3 linked regions of the Homo sapiens genome follow. The protein of the gene in region 1 interacts with the protein of each later gene in a pairwise test. Each region holds a gene or a part of one and is shown in the gene's direction. Other genes may lie near its edges.

Region 1 (7,664 bases):
TTTCATAGCAAGGCAGTAAATGCACCTCAAGTGGAAATTCTCTAGTCCGGTAGTTGTCATTGGGAAGTACTTATAAGAGTTTTTTGTTTTGTTTTGTTTTTTGCCATTATCCCCAATAAACACTCCACAAAGGGCTATGAAGGGGATGATTTGTCCCAACTAGTACTCTAGCTTCTACCTGATACTTTGTGGGCTCAGGTGATTTTACTATTTCCCATTAACATGTCCAACTAACACTTTTCAAAAGAGCAGCTTTACATGTCTTTGGTTTTATAGTACTAGATAGGGGAAGCATCCTCCAGCTAGATACAATACCCATTTTCATAAGACATTTAGGCAAAGAGATTACAACTACGTTACATAAACCCTGTTTAAACATCTTAAATTTCATAATTCTATTAACCTGTACATTTTTTGGTTCTACCCCCAGATGATTTTACCTTTCCTGGCAAAAAAAAGGGCTTGAGTTCCCAGCAGGGAGTTGCATCTGTAAGACCCATGAGGAATGGCAGTTTTTTTTTGTTTTTTTTTTTTTTGAGACAGAGTCTCGCTCTAGTGCCCAGGCTGGAGTGCAGTGGCACAATCTCAGCTCACTGCAACCTCCACCTCCCAGGTTCAAGTGATTCTCCTGCATCAGCCTCCTGAGTAGCTGGGACTACAGGTGTGCACAACCACACCAGGCTAATTTTTGTATTTTTAGAAGAGACAGGGTTTCACCATGTTGTTCAGGCTGGTCTCAAACTTCTGACCTCAGGTGATCCACCCGCCTCTGCCTCCCAAAGTACTGGGATTACAGGCATGAGCCACCATACTGGCCAACACTTTCATTATTTTCTTTCTCTCTCTCTTTTTTTCTTTTAGCAACCACAGGCAAAACAAAGAGGAGCACTACTTTAATAATGACAATACACAACCTAAATTTAAATGAGAAGACTTTTGTGATCCATAATGGAACACAAATATGGTAGAGGAAAGGGTGTGGAATCGGGCGTTAGACAAACCTGGTTGGAGTTTTTTTTTCTTAATAGGAAGGCATGGAATTTTTTTTTAAATCAGCTACAACAGCTACTCAGGAGGCTGAGGCAAGAGGATTGCTTAGGCCCAGGAGGTCAAGGCTTCAGTGAGCCATGATCATGCCACTGTACTCCAGCCTGAGTGTCAGAGTGAGACTCTATCTCAAAAACAAAAAAAAATAGTGATAATTTTTCATTACAACACTTAAATTGTTGTTGAAATAATAAATATAAAAGGCTTGGTATAGTAGATGCTTAATAAATCATAGTATCTCTCTCTCCTAGAAGATTCCAAGGCTGGAAGCTAGGAGATCTGGCCCCTAATGATGCAGGATTTTTCTTGGCCCCTTTGACAAACTCATGGAAGGGGGCGCCTTGTCTACCAGGCCCACCACAATCAACCACTTGCAGGAGGGAGCACATGAGCAAGCAAGTTCAAGATCCAGCCAGCCACTCTGGGCACTGGCACAGGAGCAAGCTCTGTGTGGGGCCTGTGGCCAGACCAGGCATGTTGCCTCAAGAGGAACACTGCAGTGCCCAGGTGAAAGTGCCCATGACCCTGAAGCCTCAGAGCGGGTGTTACAGTGCTCCTTTAGTTTCATCATCCACAAACAGCAGTGTGTTAGTAGCTCAGTTGGCCCTTTGCCTTGTCACGTGGGGCAGCTGCCTTCCACTGGTGGGGGCAAAGGACCAGTGTGACAGCCTTTCTGGGTACCTGTACTTGGTGGGTCCCAAGCTCTTGTCCAGTGTCCAAGAAGAATGAGGTCACATGCAGGATTGAAGGATGGCGGGCCAGGTGCGGTGGCTCACGCCAGTAATCTCAACACTTTGAGAGCCTGAGGTGGGTGGATCACCTGAGGTCAGGAGTTTGAGATCAGCCTGGCCAACATGGTGAAACCCCATCTCTACTAAAAATACAAAAACTTAGCTGGGCGTGGTGGCAGGTGCCTATAATCCCAGCTACTTAGGAGGCTGAGGCAGGAGAATTGCTTGAACCCAGGAGGCATAGGTTGCAGTGAGCTGAGATTGCACCATTGCACTCCAGCCTGGGTGACAGAGCAAGACTCTGTCTCAAAAAAAAAAACAAAGAAAAAAACAAAGAAGGATGTTGAGGGCAGAGAATTTTTTTTAGTGATGAAAACGAGTCTCAGCAGTGAGGGGAGCTGGAGAAGGGACAGGAAGGGCAGGTCGTCTTCCTCAAAGTCAGGCGGTCTCCCACTCTACTGACTAAGTCAGGGGTCCTTATAGGCACAGGATGGGGAGTATGTGCAGATTGGTTTGTGGCTATGCAAGAAAGGTTAAAGCAAAGGCACCACTCAAAGGTGGGCACAACAGTGTAGAAAACCAATCAGGAAAGGGTAGGTATATGTAAAATAGGTGAAGGGTGGGGATCAATCAGAGGAAAACATGCAAGACAGGAAGACAAGTTCTCAATCTGGTCTGAGGACTTAACTTGTAGCTTGGCTTTCGAGCTTTAAACTGTTTTTGGCTTGGAGGTGGGGTTTCAATGGGGACCCGCCACTAACTGCCTAGGCATTTGGCTGTCTCCTGTCGCTATCACTAGATCTAGTATTGTTATCATTTCACTAAATCATATATCCATACAGTTAAAAAACACCTTCATATATATACCATTTATTTCAGCAGCCTGTGTTAAAGAAACTAAGGTTTGGGCCAGGCGTGCTGGCTCACACCTGTAATCCCAGCACTTTGGGAGGCCAAGGCGGGTGGATCACGAGGTCAGAAGATCGAGACCATCCTGGCTAACATGGTGAAACCCCGTCTCTACTAAAAATACAAAAAATTAGCCGGGCGTGGTGGCGGGCACCTGTAGTCCCAGCTACTTGGGAGGCTGAGACAGGAGAATGGTGTGAACCCGGGAGGTGGAGCTTGCAGTGAGCCAAGATAGAGAGACACTGTCTCAAAAAAAAAAAAAAAAAAAAAAAGAAACTAAGGTTCACAGCTTAACTGGAGGTCATGTCTTCTCAAAGTGCTCTGCCACAAACTTCCTCATTTGTGAAATTTGGAAAATAATATCCTCTACTTGTCCACAAATAGCATCTAATCATACATAAGCATGTGAGAGCTCTTTAAAAATGCAAGGTATTAATTATTATTGGTTTTTATTTTAAATGTGGTTATACATGTTGAGATTTAAAAGATTTCCTCCCGGCCAGGCGCAGTGGCTCACGCCTGTAATCCCAGCACTTTGGGAGGCTGTAGGTGGGCGGACCACGAGGTCAGGAGATCGAGACCATCCTGGCTAACACGGTGAAACCCCGTCTCTACTAAAAATACAAAAAAATTAGCCATGCTTGGTGGCAGGTGCCTGTAGTCCCAGCTACTCAGGAGGCTGAGGCAGGAGAATGGCGTGAACCCAGGGGGCGGAGCTTGCAGTGAGCCGAGATCGCACCACTGCACTCCAGCCTGGGAGACAAAGACAGACTCAGTCTCAAAAAAAAAAAAAAAAAAAGATTTCCTCCCATGAAGTAAGCCAGAATAAACTCATACCTACTAAATTCTTTCTAAAATCTTTTCTAAATTGACACTCTTGAGAAAGAATAGAGCTTGGAGGAAGAGCTATTATTATAATTAATAGCACAATAATCAGTTTGTCATTAAACCACTTAGGTCTCTTTGTAACAAGATTTCTAAGCTTTAGTAGATGGATTCCTTATTCTATTCTATTTTATATTGTTTTGTTTTGTTTTATTTTATTTTATTTTTCGAGACAGTCTAGCTGTGTCACCCAGGCTGAAGTGCAGTAGTGCGATCTCGGCTCACCGCAACCTCTGCCTCCTGAATTGAAGTGATTCTCATTCCTTAGCCGACCAAGTAGCTGGGACCACAGGTGTGTGCCACCATGCCCAGCTAATTTTTTGTATTTTTAGTAGAGACGGGATTTCACCATCTTGGCCAGGGTGGCCTCAAGTGATCTGCCCGCCTCAGCTTCCCAAAGTGCTGAGGTTACACGCATGAGCCACCGTGCCCAGCCACTTATTTTATTTCATTTTTTAAATTTATTATTATTATTATTATTTTGAGACTGAGTCTTGCTCAGTCGCCCAGGCAGGAGTGCAGTGGTGTGATCTCGGCTCACTGCAACCTTCATCCCCTGAGTTCAAGTAATTCTCCTGCCTCAGCCTCCTGAGTAGCTGGGACCACAGGCAGGTACCACCACACCTGGCTAATTTTTGTTATTTTAGTAGAGATGGGGTTTCGCTATGTTGGCCAGGCTGGTCTTGAACTCCTGACCTCGTGATCTGCCTGCCTTGGCCTCCCAAAATGCTGGGATTAAAGGCATCCTGTTACTAATTTCACAGGATTTTAGAAACGCAAGCAGCGTTGTGGAGTCAATGGGGGAGGGCAAAGAACAGGAGGAGAGATCTGTGAGAACGGGATCGGCGAGGAGGCGACGGGGAGGAGGCGACGCGGAGGGGTGAGGGGTCCTCTCCGCCGCCAGGCGGAGTTGGGAGCCGGACGATCCCGCACGCAGCGCGAGGCGGGACCCCGGACTGACTACATTTCCCAGTCTCCGTCGCTCCGCGCGGCCCACCCCTTCGGCTCTGGGCCCCGCCTCGTGGTGCCGGCTGGTTCTTCGCGCTCGCCCGACTTCCCAGCGGCCCCGTGCGGCCCGGGCATGCCCAGTGCGGGCGCAGCGGCCCCGGCCCTGGAAGCGCCCCGGCGGAGCTGGCCTGCGGTGGGCTAGGGGCAGGGCCGGAGCCGCGGCGGCGGAGCTGTGGGTAGGTGCGGGCTCAGCCGAGCTAGGCCTCGGGGCCGCCGCGCCGCCCATTCTGAGTGGCAGGGACCGGGAGGGCAGGCAGGGCCCGAGCGTGGGTTGGTGGGGCTACCGGCGAGGACCCCTTATGGGAAGGGGCCGGAGGGAGCGGGACGGGGCCGGGCACATCCCCGGGCGAGGCTGCCCCAGGTGCGGCGCAGCTATCTTTAGCTCCCTGTGTGACCCGGAGCGTGCGTGATCCGCACCTCGCGTGATCCGTACCTCGTGCACAGTTGTGCCTAGGGAGACCAGTTTTCTGCCGAATTGCCTAGGAGCTGTGGGGAGATGGGCCTGAATGGACCCGTGGACTCAGAGGCAGCCCGTGGAGCCCCGTGGGAAGTGAGGATGTTTACCTTCCCTGTACCTGGAGTGGGCTACGACAGCTTCCTGTTTGCCGAGACTTGGGTTTAGTGACTTAGAAATAAAAGTGTGTCTCAGCAGATGCTTATTAGCTTCTAATGACTGTTGGGAATTTAATGGCATTTGTATTTCCAGGTTTGAGAGGTTATTTGTCCATGGGATGCTCGTGTTAAAACAAAAATCTTCATTGCAAAGCTTAAGTAAAAACAAGTCTCGACCGAGGTAACGTTAGAACACCGGGTTCTGAGGTTCACTGTAGCTGCCATTCATTTGCTGTCAGTCTGGGCAAGTCATTTAACTTCTGAGACTGGGTTCTCTCACCTGTTAAATGAGCCAGATGCATCTTCATCTGTCTAGCTCAGCTGTAGGATTCCCCCTGTGTCATTCAGTCTGTGTGTGTGTTCTCAAATTGTGGCAGGTTATTTTTCCCCATGCCTCAGCTATTTGTCAGACTGGGTAATTCACCAAATATTCCTGTAGGAAGGATGTTAGGATCTAAGTATAAAAGTGAAGTGATTTATCCTTCATAGGTCACTCTTAGGAGGTGTCCTGCCACTTGGTACATGCAGAAACCAGGTGTTAGCTGGCCAGGGATCAAATGACACAGCTGTTGTGGACTGAGACAGAATGTTTCAGGTTCCCTGTCAGTTCCCTGTGAGAAATCCAGGCCAAGTAATGGGCTTCCTTAAACCTCCAAGCTGGCTCACTTTGGTGGGGTTGTGTTTATATAGAATTTTAAGTTTTTTTCATGCTGTTGTGCCCTATTAGATGCAAGAAACCTATGAAGAAGTTTAGTACCCTTAATTTATAGATGAGCCAGTGGCAGGTTACGGGAGTGGATCTGTGAGTCTTTACAAACTAGTGTCGTGCATATCACTGAGCCTTTGCTAGTTATCTAGCTCAGCTGCCCTCACCTCAACCCTGAGAACATGTCTGTATGGCTGTACCTACGCGACTGGAACTCTGAGGTGTTTGTTTTCAGGAGGAAACAGTGGGAGTATTAACAGAAGTTTCTTACCCTAGAGACTTCTATCCGAAGTGAGCCTATCTGTGTAGGATTTGACCTAAGGAGCAGAGGGTATATACAATGTTGGGCAAATTGCCTTCCTACTGCCATATCCCCTGCTCTTCCAGTTCTGAATGGCATTAGTCCAGTTGGGTCAATGAGGAGCAGTTTGGTGAAGTGGTTAAAGGTCGGGGAAAGTGTGCTTATATTTTGAAATTTAAGGTTTGTACAAGCTGCTTGTGAAATTCTGTCTTTGTATTATGGTCATACCTCTTAAACTGAGAATACTGCAACTTGATTGAGTGAGTGTTGAGAACTTTAGAATATCAGGTTCTTAAAAAATGCCTGAAAGTGGGTTTTCTATTCATCTTAGAAGTCACCACAGATTAAATGAGAGAATAGTATATTAATTACAAGTATTTCTCACATGAACTCTCAAGTTCTTAATTTTTGAAACTAGATATCCCATTCACCTGAGAAATAAAATGGGAAAGCCTTACTGTTTTAAAGACTGTTTATACATATGAACTTTTTTGAGGCCTAGTTTAAAATCCACTATTTATTGCATGTTTATTAAAATTGTATCTGTATATATTTAAAGTTAGAAAACAGAAAAGACCAGCCGGGCGTGGTGGCTCATGCCTGTAATCCTAGCACTTTGGGAGGCTGAGATGGATGGATCACCTGAGATCAGGAGTTTGAGATCAGCCTGGCCAACATGGCGAAACCCCATCTCTACTAAAAATACACAAAATTAGCTGGGCGTGGTGGCGGGTTCCTGTAATCTCAGCTACTCGGGAGGCTGAGGCAAGAGAATCACTTGAACCTGGGAGGTGGAGGTTGCAGTGAGCCGAGCCCAGTGTTGCACTCCAGCCTGGGCAACAAGAGCGAGACTCTGTCTCAAAAAATAAAATAAAATAAAAAAGACCTATTTGGAGGTTTTGGTACGCAATTTCATGTCATACCTTAAACTTTACTGTGCCCGAGGGCTCTGTATGACTGAAGCATGTATTTAGTAATTTTTGTAAGAACTTTTATCTTGCTCTTGTATTTTCATTCAAGTATTTGAAGGTATCCAGCAAACATAAAAATTGCTTAAGAAGATATTGAAATGTAATTATCTTCCATCTCCAAACCCTCAAAAGTGCTTAGAATGTGTAGGAGGGATAGTTAGGGGCATTGAGGCTCAGAGGAGGTTACTGGTCAAGAGCACATTGTAAAAATGTAAAATGTAAAAATGAGAGGGTGTAAAATGTAAAACCCCTTGTAAAAATGAAAGGGTGGTGAGTGTTTTAGAAAAAAAATAGGGATTTTAGGTTTCAGCTGTACAGGAATAGCTTCACTTGATTCACTCTATTAGTGCTAGAATCTACTGCTATCTTACTAGAGCTACAAGTATGTGAGGTCATCATGTGGAAATGTGCATGAAGTAACTTATCTTTAAAATAAATATTTGCCTCCATTATGTTCCATCTGTTTCCAGATCCTTCATGATGAGAGATTTGGG
Region 2 (6,709 bases), on another chromosome or scaffold:
TAGCCAATAATTAATTTATATTAGATATTTTTGAATGTTAAATTCTTTTTTTTTATTTTATTTATTTTTTTAAGACGGAGTCTCACTCTGTCACCCAGTCTGGAGTGCAATGGCATGGTCTCAGCTCACTGCAAGCTCTGCCTCCTGGGTTCAAGCGGTTCTCCTACCTCAGCCTCCCAAGTAGCTGGGACTACAGACGCGTACCACCACACCTGGCTAATTTTTGTATTTTTAGTAGAGATGGGGTTTCACTGTGTTGGCCAGGCTGGTCTCGAACTCCTGACCTCGTGATCCACCCGCCTAGGCCTCCCAAAGTGCTGGGATTACAGGCGTGAGCCACGGCATCCGGCCTTGAATGTTAAATTCTTAAGGCTTCTTACTGTCAAAACAAATTTAAGGCATTCACAAACTGTGTACCAATAAGTTTTGGAGAATAATTATGGGTTCTATAAGGATGCATTTTTTATCACTGAATTTTAAAATATTGATTGATAATTGGTGGCCTTCATGGCATTTTCATATTTTAGTTAACAGAATCATTTTTGAGGGAGTTGTTTTTCCTGCCATTTTCGTACCACCTGGATCCCTACCACAGCCAAGTTACAGGTCAAGATTTTAATATGCCATGTAATTTGAACTTTTAAGAAAGTTTATGGCTGGGCACGGTGGCTCACGCCTGTAATCCCAGCACTTTGGGAGGCTGAGGCAGGCAGATCACGAGGTCAGGAGATCGAGACCATCCTGGCTAACATGGTGAAACCCCACCTCTACTAAAAATACGAAAAATTAGCCGGGCATGGTGGCGGGCGCCTGTAGTCCCAGCAACTCGGGAGGCTGAGGCAGGACAATGGTGTGAACCCAGGAGGCGGAGATTGCAGCGAGCTGAGATTGTGCCACTGCACTCCAGCCTGGGTGACAGAGCAAGACTCCGTCTCAAAAATAAGAAAAAAAAAAAGTTTATATGCATTTGTATGTAAAGTATTTTATAATCTTTAAAGAAACAACGGTCACATTTCTTGCCAGTGTCCTCCTGCCTTTAAAAATTCTCTTTTCTGGTTGGGGAAATGATGTTTGGTAACTGTTTTTACTATGTCTGCTTCTTTGCAAAGCTTTGTCTTTAACAGAGTAATATTCTATGCTAAAATAGTCATTATTTTTAGAAAGAAAATTGTTCAGTTGCTGGTTTCTTATTTTATATATTCTTCATTAAACAGAGTTGATCAAGAACTTAATGGAAAACAAGATGAACCGAAAAATGAACAGTAAGTTTGGCATCTAGTCCAAACAAGACTGAAGAATGTGCTGATGGAGCAGTGCTGTTTCTGCATTCATAATGCATTTATTGGCCCATATTTTTATGTAACCTGTTACAAAATAGACTTGACTTTTTCATAATGGACTTTTGTATTATACAAGGGACTGTTCACTGCTGTACTGGTTTGCAAATTTCTTGAATTTAGCTCTTTAATAGCTAACTGTATTATTATCGTTTTATATTTTATATTGCTAAATAGAGAACCACACTTTATATAAAGTAGTTTTTGCATTTGTTTATTGAATGATGCATCTTCTTCGGTGAAATATTTATATGCATAAATGGCAAAGGAAAGAAATAATATATATTTTTATGTCATTGAGCAATATTTTTTAATGTGTACCTGTCTTATGGAAGAAATATGCAGGTATATAAGACCACGATTTTCTAAAGTGCATATTAGAATTTTTGTTTTTGTAAATGGTTAAATACATTTCCTGGGTAACTTAGGAAATTAAGTTTTTCATAAGGCAACAGATGGTTAAACTGATTGTCATGAATACCCAAAGATCATGTATATAATCGAAGTGTATTAGTACCATCCCAAGGTTTTTTTCTCATTTAACATATTTGTTTCATAATTCAGCAAGTACAGATGCAAGCGCATTGCACACTTTTTCCTTTCTAAACTTAAAGACAAGTCAAAAAGCCATTCTTAGAACTAGAGGATTTAAGAGGGTAGGAATTAGGGTTTGTATATATGTATATATGGGACATTTTATCTTCTGGCCCAAAGTCAGAACTTTATAAAAATCTTGAGTTTGTTCACTAATGTGAAATAAGCTATGTGTCCAGGGTATTGCTCCCCTGAGTGTATATGAGTGCTGAGTAGTATTGCAGAGAATGTGATGAGTTATTCACTGTCACAACTTTTTCTATAGAAAACAGGGGCTGCTTTTTAAACTCTCACTATGGGCACTTTACCAAAATACTTCCATATCAATTATTTGAACTCGGTAGTTGTTTGACCTAGTTAGATGTGGTGTTTATTCAAGTTTGTATGAAATCATGTTTGACAATACTGTAAATTAGGTTAATTTTGTAAGTCTTAGCATCATCATATTGTGCTGTTTTGGATAACACGTTTGTTACAAGCATTTAAACTGTTTCATTTGGTAGTACCTTTACATTGAAATAAATTGTGTTTGTGCCTCCAAACAAAAAGTTTAATTACCGACAAAATTATTTCTAAAACAACAGATTGATCTGATATTGTGTCATATACTTGAAAGGCTCATACACAGCTGGTAAGCATAATACCTTCCAAATTTGAAGGTCATGGCTACTCTTCAACCCTTCCTGTAAGGTATTTTACAAAACAGTGGCCTAGAGTAGCAAAATTGAAGTGGATGTGAGCTAACCTTTCAAGATTTAGTCTATCCTAGATTGAACACACATGTGGCTGTGACCATTCTCATGTACTTACAAACCTTCTGTTACAAAAGGGAACTTTCCTATATTTTTTGTCCTCCTCAGTCCTAAACTTGGCATGCTAACTTAAAACCAGTTATAGGAGAGAGATGCTGGAGGATTCCCAGGATGAAACATTCCTCAGCAGCCTCCTGACTTAACTCAGATCCAGCAGCTCTTGGCAGATCCTGAACTAATGTCATTACAGTGAATTGAGCCAAAACGATTATTGCTTGCTCACATTTTAGGAACACTTGTTGTTGAAGAAGCAAACTAACAATAACAAGTTAGGCATTCCTTCTGAATTTACCATATAAGGATTATGTATAAACAATTATATTGAATTTGTCATTAGATTCTATATTTGTAGACGATTTAACGTAGTCTTTCATCTGTACATCTTTATCTTGCTCAAAATGGGCTGAGGTTTTTAATAGGTGGTTTTCTACCACATTAAGTACTTGGTTCTTCAGTTTAAAAAATATGAAGAATAACTTCAACTCTTTTTTGCATTATTTTGATTTTTGATTTTGCAGTCATTGCTCCTAACTGTAGATACATGTTGCAAAAGTGATGTTTTTCTGAATTTTTTTTAAAAGTAGAAGACTATTCTGTTAAACATTAAAATTCAGAGACAACAGTGATAACACCTGGGATATAATGAAAATGAGGTGCTGTGAATCAGTAAACTAAAGGGATACCTGCTTTAACCTGCACCTTAATGGAATCTGGTATAGAGATGTACCCACAATAAATGTTTTATAAGATTTAAGATCATAATAGTAGGTTAGAGGAAGAGCATTTATTAAGTCTGTTGTTTCTAATCTATAGCTAAGTTAACATTTCCCATATTATTCCATTTTAATTTCCCATTACTGACCAAGGTGAAAGTATATGTGATTGTACTTTTATCTTTCTGTTGGGATCATGGATCTAATTTAACTGGCTTAATTTGATGCTTCTGTCACTAGGCTCTAAGTGCCCCTTTTTTAGTCAGAAGTTTTTCATGTGAAATAATTTGATTCTGTGTTCTGCTTGATCATACTCCTAAGCAAGCACCAAGGGAAGACGTTCTATTCACCCCACAATTTAAGCTTAACAATCTTTAACTCAGAGGGAGATATGAAGAAATATGATTCTAAGTAGGGTCTAGCAGAGGCATTGGAAAGTGATAAAAGTAGGAAGTAAGAGAAAGCAAACCTTTATAAAGAGATAAAGACATAGTTGTTACCTAAGATGCCACTGTATGTGTGCCCTCTCTTTTTTTTTTTTTTTTTTTGGAGACAGAGACTCACTCTGTCACCCATTCTGGAGTGCAGTGGCGCAATCCTGGCTCACTGCAACCTCTGCCTCCCGGGTTCAAGCATTTCTCCTGCCTCAGCCTCCTGAGTAGCTGGGATTACAGGCACACGCCACAATGCCCGGCTAATTTTTGTATTTTTAGTAGAGACGGGGTTTCGCCATGCTAGGCTGGTCTCGAACTCCTGACCTCATGATCTGCCTGTCTCAGCCTCCCAAATGCTTGGATTACAGGCTTGAGCCACCACGCCCGGCCATGTGTGTCCTTTTAAGGGAAGTACCATATGTGACTGCTGATGGTAACATTTCTTGTATGCAGCAGGAAAACCTGCAGGCTATACGCAAGGTATGTGAATAAAGACTGTGGATTGAAGGGGGAAAAGTTGATAATACATACCCATGATAAGAATTCATATTTTCTCTTTCTTTGTCTCTTCATACAGAAGCAAGTTCGAGCAGAGAAGGTTAGCAGTTACAGCACTTAAAAGTTTAGGATTGAGGGTTTTTGGTTGGTTTTTTTGTTTTTTCATATTTCACTGTTGCTGAACATTGATTTAGTCTTCCAAAATGGACATCACTAGTAAGTGCACTGAATACTGAAATATGCTGATTGGCAAGCATATATCTGTAGCTAGAATTTTTTTAACCGTAATTCCAGAATTTAAAAAGGTAAGAGATCTGCTTTTTGATAGAGGCCTTTTAAAAAGACTATATAACATTTCTATTTGGCTGTTTATGTGAATGCTCAGGGAATTTGGACATGTGTTTTATACAGAAGTGGCTTTTTATATTTCTTCAAGTGATAAATTAGCATTAGGACATATCAGATAGAACAGGCCAGTTTCCTGATGAGATTGGTAGAGATGTTACGGTAGGTTCATCCTTCCTTTTTCCATGTTATATGTGGAGAAGTGTTAAACTTGCTCAAGCAAATGGGAGTAGGAGATAGGCTGAAAATAGAGATTGCTACACCATTCTATTTTGTTTTCATGCCTGTTTTTTCTCCAATCCTATATGGACATTTGAGAAATGGACCACAAATCTGAGAGGGATAGAGTAAAAAGAGGCATTAATGTATGTACTCACAAGTTAGACCTATTTTGCTGTTAAAATAGGTCTGGTCTTGTTATAGGTCATAGGAATTGTGTAGTTTGAGTTGCTGCGAGAAAGAGTCAAGAACTTAGACTTGAATGGGAAGGCCAACTGGTGAGGGAAGTGGGGTATTATCTACTCAAATGTTCTAAGCTAATACAAAAGAATTACCTGGCAAGCATCCCCCTCTGCCCTTCTTGAAATTCTGAATGAACTTAGAATCAGATCAATGGTGAGACCCAGTTATGTAACTTTCCTTTGAAGTTCTAAAGGATAATTGAAAATAAAGTAGTCTGGCATGTTTAACAGTAAGGAGTGACACTAAAATTTGAATATAACAGTATGTTGCAACTATTTATAATAGACCTATTTATGTTTTGAGAACTAAGTAAAATGCTATGAAAAATTCACATAAAGCACGTAAGCACCAAATGAAAATCATTTCGTGCTTTCAAATTAATGATACTAGGCTTGTAGGATGTCTTAGAATCATGTTTAACAAGAAGTTAAAATATTTGCATTTTGAAATTTTTATGCAGTTTGGCTAAGGAGGAACTTGGAAAATAACATTCATCAGCTTCTACACTGCACTTTTTGTATGTGGACTTTGTAAAGTTTAATGTCCGTTTAACAGTTGCTTGTTTATTTGTGTAAACCTAGCTAGTAAATATTGATGATGTTCAGGGCCACTGACTTGCACAGCCCTTGGAGCACTATTCACACAGAACACAATTCAGAGTTTGTTAAGACATTAACACACTTTGATATCTATTCCAAAAATACTTTTGTTACCACAGGTTCATTGCTGTCATTTAGACAAAATTAATGTACTGTGATATTTTCCTACTCTTAAGATGATGTTGCCCAGCCGAGTACTGTCAGAAATTCAGTTCTGATGTCTGTGTGTGCAAGATATTAATGTGGTCCCTGTAAGAAATACCAGAGTTGGTCATGATTTACTAAGGAGATGTAATATTTTCTTTGACCTGTTAGGAATATAACTTGTGTCTTGATTTGTTGCACATCATATTTTTTGCAACATTAATGAATTTAAATAAATTAATTGGAACGTTCGTCTTTGTCTTTTTATCACATTTTTCTTTCATTATGCTACTAAATTTTTGCTTTGAATTATCCTATAAACCTCTTAAATAATTTCAGACCTTTACACTTGTTTCCCTTTCTATAGTCTAAGTGCTTCTATTCTTTGGGGATTAGAGAGTTCAGCCTGCTTTATTTTAACATCAAAACAATAATGAAACTTTGTGTTTCATAGTTGAGATTTTTTTTTAATTAATGGGGAATCCAAGGATGAAACCATGAGTGGCTTAAAATGAAAACATGGCTTTTTTTTTTTTTTTTTTTTTTTGAGACAGTTTCGCTCTTGTTGCCCAGGCTGGAGTGCAATGGCGCCATCTTGGCTCACCGCAACCTCCGCCTCCCAGGTTCAAGCAATTCTCCTGCCTCCGCCTCCCGAGTAGCTGGGATTACAGGCATGCACCAACACGCCCAGCGAAATTTTTTTTGTATTTTAGTAGAGACGGGGTTTCTCCACGTTGAGGCTGGTCTCGAATTCCTGACCTCAGGTGATTC
Region 3 (4,600 bases), on another chromosome or scaffold:
GCAAATTCTAAGAGACAGTCATTTCCTCAGCCCCTCCCAGTCCAAATTTATAGACCCAAACAATGAAATGAAAACCGTTTGCTTTGATCCTCACCCTGTTCTCTAGAGCACAAACAAATAGTAACAAACAATTGAAAGAAAGTGCTTCATAGTAGGAGAGAGATTGGAATTCTCTATAGTGACTGAGTTCTTAAATTTCTTTAGTTTTAGTTTTGCCACTTTGTTGAGAGATGGGCCTTTTAGAAAGGAAGACATATTTAAAGTATTGATTTCTTTTCCCCCAGTGTTTTATTGTGAAAAAATTTCAGCAAACAGCTTAAAAGAAATATAAATATATTGTAAACCAAAAAGTATCTGAGACAGGTCTCAATACATTTAGAGGTTTATTTTGCCAAGGTTCAGAGCCCATGATGGGGCCTCAGGAGGTTCTTAGAACATGTGCCCGAGGTAGTCGGGTTACAGTTTTATACATTTGAGGGAGACAGAAGGTCCAGGCAAAGCCATAAATCAATACATGTAAGGTATACACTGGTTTGGCCTGGAAAGGCAGGACATCTTGAAGATGGGGGTTTCCAGGTCAGAGGTAGATCAAAGAGTTCCTGACTGGCAGTTGGTTGAGAGAGTTAAACTTTACCTGAAAAGATGAAGTCAGCTTAAGTTAAAGTAAGGGAGGCTTGGCTTAAGTCATGTAGATGAAGCCTCCAGGTAGCAGGCTTCAGAGAGAACAGATGATGAATTTTTCTTTTTAGGCCTTAAAAGGTGTCAGACTCTCCAGAAAAGACCTAATAAGAGAAGGAGATTCTCTACAGAATGCAGTTTCCCCCACAAGAGACAGCTTTGTAGGGCCATTTCAAAATACGTCAAATAAATATATTGGGGGGTAAATTTCCTTTGGGGCCTGCTGTCATGTGATGCTATACCAGAGTCAGGTTGGGATTTGGTATTTTATTGCCACAAAGGGTCTGTTTGGTTAGTCTTAAGATCTCTGTTTTAATGTTAATGCTGGTCAGTTGTATTTAAATTCCAAAGGGAAGAGGGTAATATGAGGCACCCTGTAATCTGACCATAATATGAGGCACCCTGTCTTCCCATCATGGACTAGTTTTTCAGGTTCCTTTGAGATCCCCTGGGCCAAGACAGGGGTCCATTCAGCCGGTTGGGGGATTTAGAATTTATTTTTGGTTTGCTGTATATATATGTATACACACACTCCCCGCATAAATGTAAAAATTTTAAACTACCAATTCCTAGGCAAAGATGATTCTAACATTCTGTTCCTTTTGACAAGTGTCCAATTAGAGAATGCTGAGAATGTCCCCTGCATATCGGCTCTGTTGGAGAGCCCCTGATTTTTAGCAGACCTGTTTCATTCAACATGGGTTACCCAGGAGGTGGTCTTCATAAAAATGTTTCTTGGAGGCCAGGCGCCGTGGCCCACGCCTGTAATCCCAGCACTTTGGGAGGCCAAGGTGGGCAGACCACCTTAGGCCAGGAGTTCGAGACCAGCCTGGCCAACATAGTGAAACTCCGTCGCTACTAAAAATACAAAAAATTAGCTGGGCGTGGTGGCGGGCATCTGTAATCCCAGCTACTCTGGAGGCAGAAGCAGGGAGAATTTCTTGAGCCCAGGAGGCAGAGGTTGCAGCGAGCCGAGATCATGCCACTGCACTCCAGACTGGGCAACAGAGCAAGATTCCGTCTCAAAAAAAAAAAAATTGTTTCTTGGTCTCCATCTTTCAAGAAAATACATCTGTGCTGTATTTTCCCCTTCCCTCAGGCCATGATCTCTGCTGTTTTCCTTACTAACTGGCATGTCAGTACAAGAGTGATTGTGAAGCTGCTCCGGAAGGGCTTTATGCTAACCTCTGTTGCTTGATGACATGTCCTCAGGACTCTGATATTAAAACTCAATCCTTAGATAACAGGTAGCTTTATCATGGAAGTAGGTAGCAATTTGGAATTAGACCATTCTTAGTTATTTTTTTCTTAATGAATTGATACATGCACTTTAAAAAATATTTTTGTTATTTTGGGAAGAAAAACTCAGACTTTTAAAAAAGTGTATATTGTCCCATTATAATATGTATATGGAAGAGTGAAATCTGAACGCTGTCTTATATTAAGCAGTAGAATTAGGTATTATCATAAAAAGTCTTAATCTGTAGGGAATATGAGTTTATGTTTATGAGTCCTGCTCAGTCCCTCTTTGAGAGAATTAGTTGAAACCCAGACTCTAAAGTCTGCTTTTATATTTGTTTGTTAAGACCACTTATCTGCAGAAGGTTGCCTTTTAACCCCAGTGGTTCTAAGGTGTGGAATTGAGTGACCCTAATATTTACATAAGAGACTTGTTTTAGTGGAGCATAAGGGAGGGGCATAAGTTACACCGTTTTGTGCTGCTTGAGAACTGTCTTTTAAAATTGATCACAACGAGGGAAAACAAAATAAAATTAGGGGGCAAAGGGTAGGAGTATGGGGGGAGGGGAGAGCAAACCTATCGAATATATCTTAGAATTTTGCTCAGAAATCACTGCTGCCTCTCAAGTGTTGCATTGTCCCTGCCTAAACCAAGAAGGCTAAACAAAGCCCCTCCTGTTTGAATTCTTAAGGTAAGAAATTTCTAAGCTAAGAAAACACTATTGCCTAAAACCAATGATAGTGGAGCTCATTTACAAATAGGCATGCCTCACACACACAGTCCAAAGGCAAGACACTGGCTTTGAAATTAGGCTCATGATGTGATTCCTATTATATGTACCTGATTTTTTTAGGCCCCAGGTATGTGGACCAGAGTTAATGTCATGACTCTTCAAAGATATGATGAAAAGTTGCCCTAGAAATCTAGAGATGCATGTTTATTTAATTCCATAGTTTAAAAAAAAATTTAAGCAGGTAGTTGTGGCTTATCTGGGGGCAAAATAATATATGTGAAATTGCTTCCAGAGGACAAAGTATATTTTCTAAAGTCCTGAAATAGGATCATGAACCCTTCTGAAGTTTTGGTTTGAAATATTATAGTATATGATATTACCAAAGAGCCCTTAATTCAGAGTTTAAGGGGCTCTCTTCCTGAACTCTCTTCATCACTCAGGGTTGAATGTGTAATGTTCCTTGCTATTGATTGTTATTGTTGATTCTTAGGATCAGGCCAAGAATCATCTGGAAAACATTATCTTAATTCCGTCTCTCATATCCTAAACAGTACATTTTACTAAGAAATTCCATATGAAAAACTCCACTCATGTCTCCTGAGATTATCCTGTAAGTGAAGTAGCTTTCATTTAACCAAGCTAAATTATTTCCATTTAGCCATGTTAAAGAGAAGCCAAGTCTAGAGAAAGCAATCCTGTAACCCATGAATCTGGTGTACCCATTTTCCCTTAACGTAACGGGAAGTGTTTTGAAATTCCCAGAAGAGAGCTGTTTTGTAATCAAAGTGATGGATTATAAGAAAGCCAGACTTTGGAAAAGGATAATTGGAATAAAGGGAGGTGCTTGAAGATTTTCCAAACTACTTTATGTCATTTAGCTTCTATTTTCTGAAGGGCTTTCTTTGGTGCCATGTACTCAGATCAGTCAGTTGACTGAAAGATGATCATGTTTTCTTCGTAAAGATTTAAGCAATTGGCAACTACAAAGACATTATTTTCTTACTGTTCTATATCATGTACTGTTGCTGACATTACAAAAAGGGTCTGGAAGGGAAACCGTGTCACTGTTTTATCTTTTTTCTTTAAAATACAAAAGTATCCCAACTAATCATTTATTATGGTCAGCTTGTTTTACATGTCCCCTATCATGAGAAATGCTATCAACATCTGTGATTTCTAAGAGTCTTACCAAATTGTTACTTTAATTCTTGTGTCCTGCTGAGTGGTTTTTCTTTTAAAATACCATTTTTATCACCCTGTGGCACTGGGTGTGTTACTGCGATTACACTGATGATTCTGAGCTGTGCTTCTTCAAGTAGCTCAGTTCTTGCGTTTTATATTAGGTAACAGTTTTGTGATGCTTTTGTGCATTCTTTGTCATCTCTTCTGAGTTTTCGAATCTGTCATAAATAAACTTTTTCACTATGCACCTGGTAACATCTGAGTTATATTTTAATGAACCTGATTTACATTTTAAATTCTTTGTCTTTCATGTATCTTCCTTAAGAAAGGTATTCTATAAGCCCATATGAATTATTTCATAATCTATTAAGATTGTGAAAGTTAAGAAGAACTAAAAAGAAAAAAAATTGAGAATAAGATTAATAATAGATCTTTCATCTGCATTTAAATTCATGGCAGAGTATCATGACCTGGGAACTGGGAATGGAAAAACTGGGTTTATAGTGATGATTAATAAGTTCTGAGTTTTATGTCAGCATTTGGTCCCAGTGAGGCCTGTTTCCCCATGAAGATATTCTGTTCAAATTTGGAACCTCGACTTCGGATACCAGGCCAATCATTAACGTAATCTGGGTGATATGAATTCAGCCTATTTTCATTTACAAAAAGTGACACCATAATATATCTTTGCTGTCTTTTAAAACACTGCCTCTCCACATCCCTAGTGTCTGTTGCAGAATAAGGACTCACATCTGAGCAGGGAAGGG

The links. Proteins that work in one complex are often made in the same cells at the same time.
Region 2: the proteins of EI24 (region 1) and BNIP2 interact in binary tests that used the Homo sapiens proteins (3 or more experiments, as listed by UniProt).
Region 3: the proteins of EI24 (region 1) and TMED8 interact in binary tests that used the Homo sapiens proteins (3 or more experiments, as listed by UniProt).

What each region holds. Positions count from the first base shown.
Region 1 is NC_000011.10:125,564,818-125,572,481, forward strand, and holds the start of EI24 (etoposide-induced protein 2.4 homolog), read left to right. Parts: upstream 1-4,659; 5' UTR 4,660-4,756; intron 4,757-5,286; exon of another isoform or gene 5,287-5,373; intron 5,374-5,472; exon of another isoform or gene 5,473-5,625; intron 5,626-7,640; 5' UTR 7,641-7,664. UniProt on the Homo sapiens protein: Acts as a negative growth regulator via p53-mediated apoptosis pathway. Regulates formation of degradative autolysosomes during autophagy.
Region 2 is NC_000015.10:59,658,626-59,665,334, reverse strand, and holds the end of BNIP2 (BCL2/adenovirus E1B 19 kDa protein-interacting protein 2), read left to right. Parts: intron 1-1,214; coding exon 1,215-1,266; 3' UTR 1,267-6,189; downstream 6,190-6,709.
Region 3 is NC_000014.9:77,334,509-77,339,108, reverse strand, and holds the end of TMED8 (protein TMED8), read left to right. Parts: 3' UTR 1-4,080; downstream 4,081-4,600.